2 separate regions of the Homo sapiens genome follow, and region 1 is reported to be linked to region 2. Evidence: microRNA targets listed by miRTarBase, many of them from high-throughput screens and not tested one by one. Region 2 holds a microRNA gene; the other region holds the end of a gene's coding sequence.
What was found. The annotated mature microRNA hsa-miR-520d-3p reads AAAGUGCUUCUCUUUGGUGGGU and lies in region 2 at 3,146-3,167, shown strand. An mRNA with a match to its seed (bases 2 to 7 or 8) in the 3' UTR can be bound and repressed. Matches are read on the target gene's strand: a 7mer-m8 pairs with bases 2 to 8, a 7mer-A1 pairs with bases 2 to 7 and ends in A, and an 8mer does both.

Region 1 (3,774 bases), not on the chromosome of region 2:
AGCTGGGGCTGTGTGGGGACAGACACCACAGCCTTGGAGAGACAAGTCACATCCTCAGCTTCCCCTCAACCTGTGCAAGCACCGCGTTGCCATGGTGATGCTGCAGCCCTGAGATGCAATGGCTGCAGACAGCATGGGTGGTTCTAGGGCTCAATGCCGAGGTGGACGCTGTCTGGCCTGGGAGGCCAGGCGATTGGGTGGGCTGGGTGGGGGAGGAGAGGGAGCCCTCCTTTAGGTTCAGCTGGTAATTGCTGCTAAATGAAGGGCTGTCATTGAACCCAACATGTGCGAGGTAAGGGCCCCCGCTCTGCACCTTGTAATTACTGCACCAGACAGCAACGCTTGCTCCCTGTGCTGGGAGGCGGGCAGTGGGGGAGCAGACAGGAAGCTCTCATCCACCTGAGCCAGCGGGGCTCTGGCAGACTCCCCCTGCCGCCCAAGCAGCCTGCATCCCAAGCAGCCTCTAAGACGGAGGAGGCCCTGGCCCCCCTCCTTGGCTGGCTCTTCCCACATCATCCAGCTGGAGCACGAGCCTCCTTTAATCTTGGCCTCTGAGCTTGCGGAATCCAAGGGGGGCAGAGGTGCAGGAGCCAGATAAGAGGCCGCTTCCAAGCGCCCTTGGTGCTCCACCTCCGCCTGCTGAGTCTGTGCTGGGAATCTGAATTAGAGGCAGATCTCGGTCTGACTCCTGAGCACGGAGGCTCTGAGGGCCTCGGGCTAGTCACCGCCCCCTCCTGGCTTCAGTCTCCTGCTGCAGAAGTGGAAGTTGGACTCGAGAATTCTTGAGGGTTCTCCTGCTGGTAAACTTCAGCCAGCAAGCTGGATCCTACTTTTGTAAATGGGGTTTCACTGGGACAGCCACACCCTGGGTCTGTGTCATCTATGGCTGCTTTTGTGCTACGATGGCAGAGTAGCTGCAACAGACGCCATATGGTCCCCAAACCCCAAATATTTACTATCTGGCCCTTTACAGGAAGTTTGCAGACCCATTTTTAAAGTATTAAAGTTCTCCTGGGCTTAACCGAACGAGCTTTAGTGACTCCAACCTGATGGAAACAATTTTAGAACAAGCCCTATCCTTGTCCCCACCCATGGATACCCACTGTCCTCTTCCAAGCACCCCTTTTCTGCCGGTGTCTGGATAGCCGTGGCAGGGCAGCTGGGCTCTGGGAGCCAGTGTGGTGCAATGGCGCCACCTGCTGTGAGTGCCTAGGAGCACTTCGCCTGGAAAGCTTTGTCCCCAAGGGCCGGGGGGGTCTCCCATGGCCCGGGAACCAGTTTACAGGAGTAGACTCAGTCCACAGCACATCAGAGCTGGGGTCTTGCCCCCTCCCTTCCTCATTTGAGAGAGGCCTGCAGTCTAGAGAAGACGTGGGACTTGGCCAAGGAGGAGTGGAAAGCCCAAGCCCCAGGGGCCCATGAAGTTCCAGGAGGCTGTGTGGATGTCACGTGCAGCACGTGCACACACAGACGTACACAGACTTGGATGTGAACCTCAGCCCGGCCACTTAAGCAGCTCTTTATCTTTTCCAGGCTTTAGTCTCTTAGTTGTTAAAAGGATTAAAAGAAATGCTTATATAACATTTAATCTGTTACTAATAATGACTCAATCTTCAAAAGGACTCTGAGATAGACATTATCCCCATTTCACAGATTAAAAAACTACGGCACAGACAGGTTAGGTCATTTGCTTAGGGTCACACAGCTAGTGACAAAGCCAGTATTCAAACTAGGCTGTGAAAACATGTAAGGTCTCCAGAATGCAGTACTCAGTAAACATTCATTTATTTCCTGCCAGCAGGTGCAGTGGGGCCCCACTGGGGAGGGGACTGGTGTTCTAACAGGAGCGAGAAAATGAAGGAGGCCTGGCTTAAGACCAGACATTTGAAGAAGGCTCCAGGCAGGGAAAGGAAAGGAGAGGCCAGGCCCACACTGTCCCCTCCCTGCCCCCACGTCTCCAGCAACACAAGGCGGCCAGTGGACCGTGAACCATTTATTTCCAAACTATAAAGAAACCTGCTCTCTGAGAAAAGACACTGCCCAGGTGATGAAGCTCCAGCCCCTGGAGGTCCAAAACCCAGTCCAAACTCAGTCCCTTTAGAAAGCTGCTGTGCCTTGGAAATGAGTCTCGGCTGTCAGAGCCTGGGAAGTGGTGGGAAGAACCAGCCCACTCCCCTCTCCTGCTGCGATTCCAGCGCAGCTTGGGCCCAGCTCTGGCCAGTCCCAGGCTGGCCTGGTGCTCGCCCCTTGTGTGACCAGGCTCTGAAGGGAGGGGCAAAAGTCATGAGTCCCTGGCTTGGCCCCACCACCTGGTGACTCCCGTCCACAGCTCCCAGCTACCATGATGAGCCCTGGCGGCTTGAGCACAGTGAGTGCTGGCAGCAGGCTGGGGAGTGGCCTGCTTCTAAGCCATTTGCCCTGGCTGGTCACTGCTGCCCCTGGGCCACAAAGTACTCCTCCTCCTCATTGTCACCTTCCTCCCGCTGGCTGCTCCGGAGCAGCAGCTCCAGGTCGGGGCTGGAGCCCAGCCCCTTCAAGGCCTTGGGGCCACCATCACCTTGGGATAGAGAGAGACCACAGTTACAGGCCCAGTCGTGGTTTTCTTGGTTTGCTCTGATTTGCATGTGTGCTGAGTCACCCAGGCCCCACCCACCCACTCTGGAGATGACCCCCACATCTTCCTAGAGGAGTGACGGCAGCAGAGCCACCGGGCACACTTCCTGCATCAGAATCACTAAGAGTCACAGGGAGAAGAACAGAAAACAGAGGCTTCTGGAAGGGACTCTGGGTTACCTCTGGAATGCAGGGCTTTGAGGGCAACGTGGAGGGATATTCCCGAGAGGCAGAGGGCGAAGCCCAGCCAGTTCAGGAGGCTGATCTGATCGCCCAGCAGATGAGCTGCCAACAGCAAAGTGCAGACTTCCTGGGGGCAGAGAAGCAGGAGGGAGCATGATCAACAGGCAGATTTGGCTGCTTGACCAGGAGGGTGGAAGGTGGGGGCACTAGGTACACTCAGGTGGGCAGATCAAGATCTTACTGAAATCCTGGGCCCAGGCAGGCAGAGAGGTCAGGGGACCCGGCCGGCTTGCGGCGCTGTCCCGCCAGCCTCCTTTTGTGAGATGCAACAAAGGAGGTGCTTGTCATGGAATTCTGTCAGGAATAAAAGAGGCAAACCAGATCCCAGGCTGGGGACCAGGGTGTCCAGATCGCGCCTTATCCACAAGGATAAAGGACGGCTGCCCCAGAAGGCAGCCACAGAAGAGAGCCCTGAGCCTATGTGTGAGAATGCTGTGTTACCCCGGACTGAAGACACAACTGGTCCCGGGGCTCTCTATAAACAGAGACTCCAAACAGGACTGGCAAGGCCGTTCATCCAAGAACCACAGCCATGCCTCAGCATGCGGCTGGCCACCAGAAGACCCTTGGACAGGCCTGCATTTCTGGGTTTAGGCAACACTGCTTCAACACTGGTGTGTGCCTGGCCAAAGAGAAAAGTCCCTCCCTGCCCCTGAACAGGGAGGACTGTTGAAATGTGTGGGAGGGAGAAGGAGAAGTGAGAAGAGGTATGAGAGGGAAGGACAGGCCTGCGAGGCAGAGGTACAGCAAGGCTGGCCACAGGGGTGCTTTCTCAGGGTCTCACTAGCCCTGGCCATGGCCTTGGAGGACACCGCCAGTCAATCACGGAACTCTTTCCTGATGAGTCTGGATAGGGGCTGTTCAACCTGTGGCTCCAGGCCACTGCCCAGTGCCAGAGTTGGCAGTCAAGGTAAAATG
Region 2 (3,986 bases):
GGCTATAATTTTCATTTTTCTTATTTATTTATTTTTGAGTCTCGCTGTCTCTCAGGCTGGAGTGCAGTGGCAGCCTTTGCCTCTTGGGTTCAAGCAATTTTCCTGCCTCAGCCTCCCAAGTAGTTGGAATTATATGTGTCACCATCATGCCCTTTTTGTTTTTTTTTAGTAGAAAATGGGTTTCACCACGTTGGCCAGGCTAGTCTCAAGCCCCTGACCTCAAGTGATCCTCCCGCCTCAGACTCCCAAAGTGCTGAAAATGCAGGCGTGAGCCACTGCACCGAGCCATCAACACCTTCTACTCCATGGAAATGATACTGGCGCTGGTTTATAGAACCTCACTTGGGGTCGGGCAGATTTAAAAGGGACCTCAGGCTGGGTGTGGTGGCTGACGCCTGTAATCCCAGCACTTTGGGAGGCCGAGGCGGGTGGATCACGAGGTCAGGAGATCGAGACCATCCTGGCTAACATGGTGAAACCCTGTCTCTACTAAAAATACAAAAAATTAGCCAGGCGTGGTGGCGGGTGCCTGTAGTCCCAGCTACTCGGGAGGCTGAGGCAGGAGAATGGTGTGAACCCGGGAGGCGGAGCTTGCAGTGAGCCGAGATGGCACCACTGCACTCCAGCCTGGGCGACAGAGCAAGACTCTGTCTCAAAAAAATAAATAAATAAATAAGGGGGTGGGGGACCTCATTGTCCCTTGCAGATGGGATGTGCCCTGCTTAGCAAGAGCACGGAGGTGGAGTGCATGGCTTTGAGTTTTCACTGGGGCACGGAGGTGGAGTGCATGGCTTTGAGTTTTCACTGGGTAAATGCAGCTGAACTCTTGGCTGCACGACCAGGTCATATGTGCAACGAGACAGGGGTCTCACTATGCTGCCCAGGCTAAAATGGGCTTAGGTCCTTTTGCCTCCACCTCTCCCCAGTCCTTAGTAGCTGGGACTACATGTGAATATTAACCATGCACAGGCAAGAGGAAAGAAAGGACCGTTCTTTGGTTCACACCTAGCCGCCAGTCAAATTAGTATTTTAGATGAAGACTGCATTTGAGACATACTTGAACAACAAATGATTTGCTGTTTAGGTGTGGGCATCTTTCTTTTTTCCTAGTTTTAATAATGGCACCAGGCAGAGTACAGTGGCCCACGCCTGTAATTCCAGCACTTTGGGAGGCTGAGACAGGAGGATCACCTGAGGTCGGGAATTTGATTCCAGCCTGGCCAACATGGTGCAGCCCCATCTCTACTAAAAATACAAAATTAGCCCAGCATGGTGGTGGTATATGCTTGTAATCCCAGCTACTCTGGAGGCTGAGGCAGGAGAGTCGCTTGAAGCTGGAAGGCTGATCTTTCAATGAGCTGAGATCACGCCACTGCACTCAAGCCTCGGCAAAAAGAGTGAGACTCCATCTCAAAAACATAAAAAATAGGCCAGACACGGTGGTCCACTCCTGTAATCCCAGCACTTTGAGAGGCCAGGACAGGCGGATCTCCTCAGGTCAGGAGTCCAAGACTAGCTGGGCAAACAAGGCAAAACCTCGTCTATACTAAAATTAGGAAAAATGGCTGGGAACAGTGGTGGACACCTGTAATCTCAGCTACTTGGGAGGCCACGGCAAGAGAATCTCTTGAACCTGGGAAAAGGAGATTGCAGTGAGACGAAATCACACCATTGTACTCCATCCTGGGTGACAGAGTGAGATTCTGTTTCAAAAATTAAATAAATAGGCCGAGCACAGTGACTCATGCCTGTAATCCCAGAACTTTGGGAGGCCGAGGTGGCGGATCACCTGAGGTCGGGAGTTCAAGACCAGCCTAACCAACACGTAGAAACCCCATCTCTACTAAAAATACAAAATTAGCCGGGCATGGTGGCGCATGCCTGTAATCCCAGCTGCTCGGGAGGTTGAGGCAAGAGAATCACTTGAACCCCAGGGGGCGGAGGTTGTGGTGAGCCGAGATTGTGCCATTGTATTCCAGCCTGGGCAACGAGTGAAACTCTGTCTCTAAATAAATAAATAAAACTATTAAATAAACATTAAACGTTAAAAAATAAAAATAGATAAATATGAGATCATCATGAATTTGAGTGTCACCTTTGCGCAGGGCCCATGGTAATCTTTGTCATTCCAATTTTTTCATGCGTGCTGCCAAAGCTAGCACTTGTGTGTAGGAAGTATTCTTCCTGTGAGCATACAATATATGGAAGTTTCTTTTATTATTATTATTTTTTATGTTTTTGCGACTGAGTTTTGCTCTTGTCGCATAGGCTGAAGTGCAATGGTGTGATCTGGGCTCCCTGCGATGTCCACCTCTTGGGTTAAAGCGACTCTCCTACCTCAGCCTCCTGAGTAGCTGGGATTACAGGCATACACTTCCAGGGCTAGCTAATTTGTTGTATTTTAGTAGACGGGATTTCTCCATGTTGGTCAGGCTGGTCTCAAACTCCCGACTTCAGGTGATCTGCCCACCTTGGCTTTCCAAAGTACTGGGATTGCAGACAGCCACCGCGGCTGGCCTTCATATATTCTTATATATATAATATCATGTACACACAAAAGACTCTTTTACACCCTGAGAATACTCTTATATCACTTTGGGCATTTTTTTGTTGGTGTGTGCATTTTTTGTTTGTTCGTTCGTTTGTTTTTGAGACAAGATCTGGCCCTGTCACCTATGCTGGAGTGCAGTGGTGTGATCTCGGCTCCCGGCAACCTCAACCTCCCACCTCAGCCTCCTGAATTAGTGTCTACAGGCATGCACCTCTATACCTGGCTAACTTTTGTATTTTTACAGATGAGGTTTTACCATGTTTCCCAGGCTGGTGTCTAACTCCTGAGAATATAAGGTATATGTAGTAGGCGTTGCTTTTTCTCTTTGAAGACAAAACCCAGGACAGTTGTCCCTCGATGAACAAGGCTAACCTGCTGAACGTTTGAAGCAAGGAACTGGAGATGGTCTTTGTATCGGTTTATGTTCTAGATTCCAGAAAATATGCAAACAGGACCAATAAATGCATCTTTATTTTTGTGTCCATTTTGACCAGGTCAAGGAAAATTTCAACAAGAAACCCAGAGTGCCGGAGCAAGAAGATCTCAAGCTGTGAGTCTACAAAGGGAAGCCCTTTCTGTTGTCTAAAAGAAAAGAAAGTGCTTCTCTTTGGTGGGTTACGGTTTGAGAAAAGCAACGTTGAAGTTGATGCTGATTTCGGTAATACATTTGCAGAGCATGCTTATCACACTTGGACGATGGTGGGGTTCTGTTTTGGTTTTGCTTTTTTATTCTAAGGCTCTGTGTTGCTCATGCTGGAGTGCAGTGACATGTCCAATATATCTCTTGGCTTCAAATGGTCAGCCTGGGCAACACAGGGAAATTCTGTCTCAAAAAATAAACAAATGAATAAAAATACAAAATAAAGCCGGGCATGGTGGCTCATGCCTGTAATCCCAGCACTTTGGGAGGCCGATGCAGGTAGATCATCTCAGGTCAGGAGTTTGAGACCAGTCTGACCAACGTGGTGAAAATCCGTCTCTACTAAAAATACAATAACAACAAAAATTAGCCCAGTGTGGTGGTGGGCACCTGTAATCCCAGCTACTTAGGAGGCTGAGGCAGGAGAATTGCTTGAACCCGGGAGGCAGAGGCTGCAGTGAGCCGAGATTGTGCCACAGCATCCAGCCAGGATGACAGAGTGAGATTCCGTCTGAAAAAAAAAAAAAAAAAAAAAAGCTGGGCGCTGTGGCTCACGCCTGTAATCCCACCACTTTGAAAGGCCGAGGCGGGTGGATCACGAGGTCAGGAGATCGAGACCATCCTGGCTAACACGGTGAAACCCCATCTCTATTTAAAAATACAAAAAATTAGCGAGGCGTGGTGGTGGGTGCCTGTAGTCCCAGCTACCCGGGAGGCTAAGGCTTGAGAATGGCTTGAACCCAGGAGGCGGAGCTTGCAGTGAGCCGAGATCGTGCCATTGCACTCTAGCCTCGG

Region 1: miRTarBase lists SLC35H1 as a target of hsa-miR-520d-3p. The part of its 3' UTR that is shown has no 7-base or 8-base seed match.

The regions. Positions count from the first base shown.
Region 1 is chr20:46,347,968-46,351,741 of GRCh38, forward strand. SLC35H1 (solute carrier family 35 member H1) reads right to left here. Exons shown (of 10, transcript NM_015945.12): 9 at 2,794-2,923; 10 at 1-2,557. The coding sequence ends at 2,427. Among named protein-coding and RNA genes, the nearest start is that of SLC35H1, 15 kb to the right of the region's middle. RefSeq lists a silencer at 2,903-3,197 and enhancers at 3,313-3,774, 3,458-3,597, 3,608-3,667.
Region 2 is chr19:53,717,004-53,720,989 of GRCh38, forward strand. MIR520D (microRNA 520d) reads left to right here and starts at 3,093; the gene lies at 3,093-3,179. It also overlaps the pseudogene RNU6-803P.